Linked DNA regions of Homo sapiens. The protein of the gene in region 1 purifies or fractionates together with the protein of each later gene. This does not show direct contact. Each region holds a gene or a part of one and is shown in the gene's direction. Other genes may lie near its edges. The genes, in order: NOPCHAP1 and SMARCAD1.

What was found.
Region 2: the proteins of NOPCHAP1 (region 1) and SMARCAD1 fractionate together in Homo sapiens (co-fractionation; one large-scale study listed by BioGRID). This does not show direct contact.

What each region holds. Positions count from the first base shown.
Region 1 is NC_000012.12:104,989,316-104,992,815, forward strand, and holds part of NOPCHAP1 (NOP protein chaperone 1), read left to right. Parts: intron 1-2,396; coding exon 2,397-2,533; intron 2,534-3,500. UniProt on the Homo sapiens protein: Client-loading PAQosome/R2TP complex cofactor that selects NOP58 to promote box C/D small nucleolar ribonucleoprotein (snoRNP) assembly. Acts as a bridge between NOP58 and the R2TP complex via RUVBL1:RUVBL2.
Region 2 is NC_000004.12:94,210,613-94,214,644, forward strand, and holds part of SMARCAD1 (SWI/SNF-related matrix-associated actin-dependent regulator of chromatin subfamily A containing DEAD/H box 1), read left to right. Parts: intron 1-2,422; exon of another isoform or gene 2,423-2,540; intron 2,541-3,125; exon of another isoform or gene 3,126-3,158; intron 3,159-4,032. UniProt on the Homo sapiens protein: DNA helicase that possesses intrinsic ATP-dependent nucleosome-remodeling activity and is both required for DNA repair and heterochromatin organization.

The sequences.
Region 1 (3,500 bases):
GATAGACTTACCAGCCTTTGTGTGTCTGAGAAAGTATTTTGCTTTCAGTTTTTGGAAGATGCTTTAATGGATTTAGAATTCTAGGTTGACAGTGTGGTTTTTTGCTTTTTCTGTTTTCTCCAGTACTTTAAAGACATCACTACACTTTCTTTTCAGTGGCATTGTTTCTGACGCCAGTGTCTACTGTCATTTTGTGTCATGAATATGGTGTTTCTTTTCTTCTCTGGCTGCCTTTAAGATTCCCTTCATTACTGGTTTTTACCGATTTTATGGTGATGTGCCCTTTGTAGTTTTCTTTGTGAGTCTTGAGCTTGGGTTTGTTGAACTTACTGGATCTATGGGTTTATAATTTTTATCAAATTTGGGAAATTTTTAGGGATGTTGTTGTTGCTTGCTCCTGTCTCGCCTCTCCTGAAGGGACTCCAATGACACCTAATTTTGCCAGTTGAGGTTGTCTCACAGCTCATTGATTGTTTGTTTGGGTCTTATGTTTTGTGTGTTTCAATTTGGATAGCTTCTATCGCTGATTTCGTTGAGTTCACTATTCTTCTATATTGTCTAATCTGTTAATTCTATCAAATGTATTTTTTCAAGGTAGATACAGTTTCCATCTCTAGAAGTTTGAGACTGTTTACATCTTTTTTTCTTTCCTTGTGTTTGTGCTTTTCTTTTCTTCCTTGAACATACAAAGTATATTTCTAAGAGCTGTTTTAACATTCTTATTGCTGATTCTGTCGTCTGCATCATTTCTGAATCTTTTTTCCCTACTCTTTATGGATTATGTTTTCCTGTTTATTTGCATGTTTGCTAATTTTTTATTAGATGTTGGACATTTTGAATATTATGGTGTTGTGTGTTGAGTATTATTTAATTTAGAAGAACCACGACTGGACTAGCCTCAGGGTTCAGCATATACTCTCCTAGAGTACCACGGAATTATTTGGCTTCTGAGGATCACAGTTCAGGCCGCACATTTTGGTACTTGTTTTGCTCTACTTGATTCATTAGTTGGAAACAAAAGCAGTACCAGATTTTCTATCTGTAGCAATATATTTAAATCTGAGGACAGAGAAATACCTTTATTTGTATTAGTAATTTCTCTTTCTGTAATCTGAAGGGGAATGAGAGCTAACATTCACTATTACGTCGGGCTTTATTTGTGTGCATGCTCTTAGGGAGTCCTTCCAGCACCTTATTTTACAAATAGAGGTCGTCTACTTGACCTTGGCCACTATTTTCTTTTCTTCTTCCATACGCTGGACATTTTAGTCATCTGTTATGTAGCCATAGCAGTTACATAAGTTTTGAGAGTCTGTTATATGCGTGGTTATGTGCTGGGCCTCTTTTGAGAGAGAAAATAAATATCCTTGTTTGTTGACTGCTCTGTATTTGGCACAGTGACTGACAGTTATCACTCCTCTTTTATGGATTAGTACGCTGAGGTTTCAAGAGGTAGAATTAAATGTATTAATTAGGATTCTTGGTTGCAAATGACTAAAATCCAGCTCAGATTGCCTTAAGCAAAAAAAGAAATTATGTTGGCTCTTTTTATTGGGGGAAAAATACTCCAGGCACAGTAGATTTCAGGTGCATCTGGATCCAGGTGCTCAGTGTCCTCAGAGGTCAGCCACTCTGTCTCTTAGTTCTGCTTTCCTGGGTATTGGCCTAATCTAGAGCGTACTCTTCCCCCAGGTGTGGAGAGTTGCCAGTTTATCAGCAGCTTCAGCCTTATATTCAGCCAACTCAGTCATTCACTCAGAAAGATTTCTCTCTCAACAGTTCCAACAAAAGGTCCTGAGTGATCTATTATTGGCCCGACTAGAGCAGCGTGTCACTGTGATGCCACTAAAGCATGGTACAGTGGCCAAGGATATGGAGGATGTAGGCATGTATGGGGTGAGGGGCAAGAGTGACTAAGAGTGACACAAGCTTAAAAGGAAAGCCAGGGTTATATTATCAGAAGAAAGGGAACGTATGTTGGGTAGGCAGAAATAACCACTACTTAATTAACTGGCCCAAGGTAATTCAGATAGAGGTAGAACTAGGATTCTGTACATACCTAGTTATTCGTACCCTAAAGCCTCAGAACCTGGTGCTCTTAACTGTTAAGTCACACTGCCTCCCTATTTAGTTACTATTTGTTGAATGCCAGCCTTCTAGGAGTTTACAGTCCTGGGGATATATGAGAAACATAAAACATTTGTGAAACAATTGCTGGATTGTGTAGTCCTACTGTTTTATTCAGAAGAGGATGGAGGGTTTTTAAATGAAGGGAACTAAAAGATATGTAATTATGGTTGTTATTATTAATACTCAATTCAGAAGTGTTTATAGGAAATCCTGGGTTTCAGAATTTACTAGCATAAATGTTGATATGCTGTATTTACTTTCCACAGTATTGGACCAGGTACAGACATTTCTCCCACAGATGGCACGGGCAAATGAAAAGCTAAGAAAAGAAATGGCAGCTGCACCACCTGGTCGTTTCAATATTGAAAACATTGATGGGCCTCATAGTAAAGTTATACAAATGGTAACTATGCTTTGTTTTCATATGGTGAAATTACTGGTCTGCCTGTCACCTAAGAAGAAGAGAACTTTTCCATTTTATTTTCAAGTTTTCATTTTCCTGGTGTTAGCTCATGTTTCCAATGTTGTATAGGTACATAGTCATTTTATGATTTAGTCATTTTAGTCATATGATGTCACAGGAAGGTTTTTTTTCCTAAGTCAAATGCTACATTTGTTATTCTGAAGCATTAATTTACTCGATGTCCTAACTGGGTTTTTTTCTGTCCAAGCCCCAAAAGAGGTAATCATAGCCTGATTTATTGAGTATGCAAAAATAAATGATGTGTGGAAGAGAGCAATTGATTACATAAGCTATGTGCAAAAATGTTCTCTCAGTTTATACTCATATCTTGTTTCTGCAGTGGAATTCCGTTTATAATATCTGTGTCTGGACCAAGCTGAGACAATTGTTAATAATATCTAATTCATTAGCCATTCTATTCAGCTCTCCCTCCAGAATAGATCCCAAATCCAACCACTTTGTACAACCTCTGCAGTTCCTTTGGACCTTTGTTGGCCCAGGTAATTATGGCCTCTCCTTTGGAGTATTGCAGCAATTTCTTAGCAGGTTTTCCTGCGTTCACTGTGCCTTCCCTGGGGTCCGTTGTTCACACAGTTTGGGACCTGGGGGCTTCCCATCACGTTTCAAATAAACTAAGTCCTTCAAAGGGTCCATATGATCCTGCCTGCAGTTCTCTATCTCAGAGGTTCCCAACCCCCAGGCTGTGGACTGGTACTGGTCTGTGGCCTGTTAGGAAGCAGGTCGCACAGCAGGAGGTGAGCGGTGGGTGAGAGCGCATTACCACCTGAGTTCTGCCTCCTGTCAGATCAGCAGTGGCATTAGATTCCAAAAGGAGCGTGAACCCTATTATGAACTGTGCATGTAAGGGATCCAGGTTGTTGTGCGCTCTTTATGAGATTCTAATGCC
Region 2 (4,032 bases), on another chromosome or scaffold:
GGGTTTAGATCCCTGATGGGAATGAGATAAGATGAATGGTAAGATTTTTATGCGCGGTGGCTGAAGCCTGTAATCCCAGCACTTTGGGATGCAAAGGTGGGCAAATCACCTGAGATCACAAGACCAGCCTGGCCAACATAGTGAAACCCCGTCTCTACTAAAAATACAAAAATTAGCCAGGCATGGTGGAGCGTGCCTGTAATCCCTGCTGCTCAGGAGGCTGAGGCACAAGAATTGCTTGAACCTGGGAGGCAGAGGTTGCAGTGAGCCTAGATCACACCACTGCACTCCAGCCTGGGGGACAGAGACTGTATCTCAAAAAAAAAAAAAAAAAAAAAGGTAAATGTCTTTAAGAATTCAAATAAGAATCGAAGGTCTGGCTGGGCACAGTGGATCACCCCTGTAATCCCAGCACTTTGGGAGGCTGAGGCGGGCTGATCAGCTGAGGTTGGAAGTTCAAGACCAGCCTGACCAACATGGAGAAACCCCGTTTCTACTAAAAATATAAAATTAGCTGGGCATGGTGGTACATGCCTGTAATCCCAGCTACTCGGGAGGCTGAAGCAGGAGAATCACTTGAACCCTGGAGGTGGAGGTTGCAGTGAGCCGAGATTGTGCCATTGCACTCCAGCCTGGGCAACAAGAGCAAAACTCCATGTCAAAATAAATAAATAAATAAGAATAAAAATCAAAGGTCCTGCCCCCAAGTGCTAATTTAGCCTGGGGTCTAGGGATTGCTGAGGAAGTGGGGATTCAGAATTGAGTGTTGGATCTCTGGAGAGGACAAGATACTGAAGTTAGATTTTAAGGTCAGGACTGGAGATGAAAATTGGTGAATTATAAATAGGATGTGACTATTGACCTTACTTCTTTATCATGTGGTAACTTTTCATACTCCCATTGTGGGATAATGCTGCGTTAGTTTATTTACAGTAAAGTGTCAGGTCAAACTAAGTCAGCTTACAGGACAGAAATTGTATGTAGTCAAAATTACCTGTAATCACTCTTTTTGACTAATCCTGTTATTTTATCTAGTGAGTTGACTTCATTTCCTATGACCCTCCTTCAGTTACTGTGCCACCACCACATTGTTTCTTGAATCTTTCAAGCAAGGTCCCATCTTTGCTTCTTCCAATTTGCTTTTTTGCCTGGAAGACTCTTCCTGCTGATATTTGCATATGACTCAGATGCTTTGTTTCATTAAATCTCAGTAAAATGTCACCTTTTTAAGAAGACCTTCCTTGATCACCCTGTGAAATAGCCACCCACCCCAGCCCACCCTACCCCAGCTTTACTGTTATTTTTCTTCATAGTATTTATCACTAGCTAACCTTTCATTATGTAGTTGTGTATCACTAGCTAACATTACATTATATAGTTGTGACTCCCTTGTTAGAACATATGATTCATGAGAGCAGGACCTTATCTGTTGTGTTCACCTATTTATCTCCATTGTTCAGGGCAACGACTGGCTTGTCGTAGGCCCTCAATAAGTGCATTGAAGTAAATATTATTGCATGATGAGTGGGCATTATTAGTACTTTATACATTTTTTAAAATTTATTTATTATTTATTTGTTTTTAGACAATCTCACTGTGTGGCCCAGGCTAGAGTGCAGTGGCAGAATCTTGGCTCACTGCAACCTCTACCTCCTGGGTTCAAGTGATTCTCATACCTCAGCCTCCCGAGGAGCTGCGACTACAGGCTCATGCCACCATGCCCGGCTAATTTTTGTATTTTCTGTAGAGACGGCATTTCGCTATGTTGACCAGGCTAGTGTCAAACTCCTGACGTCAAGTGATCCACGTGCCTTGGCCTCTGAAAGTGCTAGGATTATAGGCATGAGCCACCACGCCCAGCCCTATACATATTTATTTATTATTATTTTTTTGAGATGGAGTCTTGCTCTGTTACCTAGGCTGGAGTGCAGTGGCACAATCTCGGCTCACTGCAACCTCTGCCTCCTGGGTTCAAGCAATTCTCCTGCCTCAGCCTCCCAAGTAGCTGAGACTACAGGTGCACACCACCACAGCCGGCTAATTTTTGTATTTTTAGTAGAGACAGGGTTTCACCATGTTAGCCAGGCTAGTCTCAAACTCCTGACTTCAGGCTATCTGCCTGCCTTGGCCTCCCAAAGTGCTGGGATTACAGACATGAGCCACCACACCTTTATTTTAAAATAGGACCTTAAAATAGTCCCTTTAGCCATCAGGTGTTCTTTGGCCATGGTTGCTTGAAGCTTCTTTTGGTACAGGACATCCTCCCTAATGCCCCTCTAAATCCCAGCCAGCCTTTGGATTTGAGGGCATACACTTAACCTCTGCCCCCTGATTTATTTTACTCTTCTCGGTGCCCAAAGTTGTCAATGATTGTTATTTACACATTATTTCTCCTTTTTTTCTTTGACTTTTGGGAGTACAGTGAGTTTGGAGGGATTGAAATAATGGCAGGTGAAAGGGAAGAGAGATCCTACTATATTTTATGAATAAAGAATAAAAATGAGTGAAGCCTGATCCTCCAAGAGCACCAGGAGAAAATGGTATGTAAATATATAGTTAAAATAGTATGGTGTGATAAAACCATATAATAGGGCAAAATACTAAGCAAAGTAGAATCACTATCTGTAATTCACAAATGATTGAATTATCCATTCTTCAGGGGAGGATCACAAAAAGTCACAGAGATATGACCTTTGGAGTGGACTCTAAACAATGAAATCATTGTTTACTGGGTGAACAAATGATGAGAGAGTTGAAAATATATGTTGCCTCCAAGAGTCTAATATGTGTGTGGAGGGTTGGGGGCAGATTATAGAACAGGAGGTTTTAGACAATATAGATGAAACTGAAAAGATAGAAGTGTAAACCATTGGGTTGTGAGGGGCCTTTATATCCTGTGTCAGGGACGGTAGATCTTATTTGGTACACATCATAGAGCATTTCATTATGGAAATGCTATTAGTGAAGCTGTTGTATTCATTGAAGCCTCAATGTAGGGAAATGACTGTAGAGATGACAGAGGAGGCAACTGAGGGGAGTTGTAAATGATACGCATTTGATGATATTAGGTGATCAGTTGAATGTGGAGGATTTACAGATAACTCAAATGTTCCTTGCTTGGACAGCTGGAGGATTGACACCATGGACTGAATTAAGAGGTGAGTTTAGGAGAAAGATACTAAAAATTATGTTGTGTTTGCATTACCCATCCTATTTTAGTACCAAGGTAGTAGATGGTTGAATATTAGAGCTCAGAGAGTGGTCTAAACCCTAGAACTTGGGACTCATCAATGTCCTAAGCAGGGTGTACAATAAAAAACATCATTTGACAATGGGCAGGAAAACCAATGAAAAATTTGAAGGATGACTAGAATAGTCATAGAAAATGATAGTGTCCTGGATACCTAAATACCTAGTTTGGTATTTAGTTGTCTAGTAACAAATCCTGTAGAGAAGTCAAGTTGAGTGGGGACTGATCAGTGACCAGTTTCCTTGGAATTAAAAGTAACTACTAACCTTTAACAGTTTCAGTAGAATGGTGATGAGATAGAGATTATTCATTCAGGAAAGGAAAGAGAGAAATAGGTAACCTGATTGGGAAGTAATGTCAAGAAAATATGTTTCAGGATTATTGAAAATTGAGCGTTCTTTTGTTTTTTTTTTTTTTTTTGAGACAGTTTCACTCTGTCACCCAGGCTGGAGTGCAGTGGCGCAATCTCAACTCACTGCAATCTCTGCTCTCGGGTTCATGCCATTCTTCTGCTTCAGCCTCCTGAGTAGCTGGGACTACAGGTGCCCGCCACCACGCCGGGCTAATTTTTTTTTTTTGTATTTTTAGTAGAGACCCGGTTTCACCGTATTAGCCAGGATGGTCTCAATCTCCTGACTTGAGATCTGCCCGCCTCGGCCTCCTAAAGTGCTGGGATTACAGGCATGAGCCACCGCACCTGGCCAAGCGTTTGTTAACCAAGGACAAGAAGCTAGTGGAGAGGGAAGGACTGAGGGAGGGAGGTATCTGAAGAGAGGCATCAA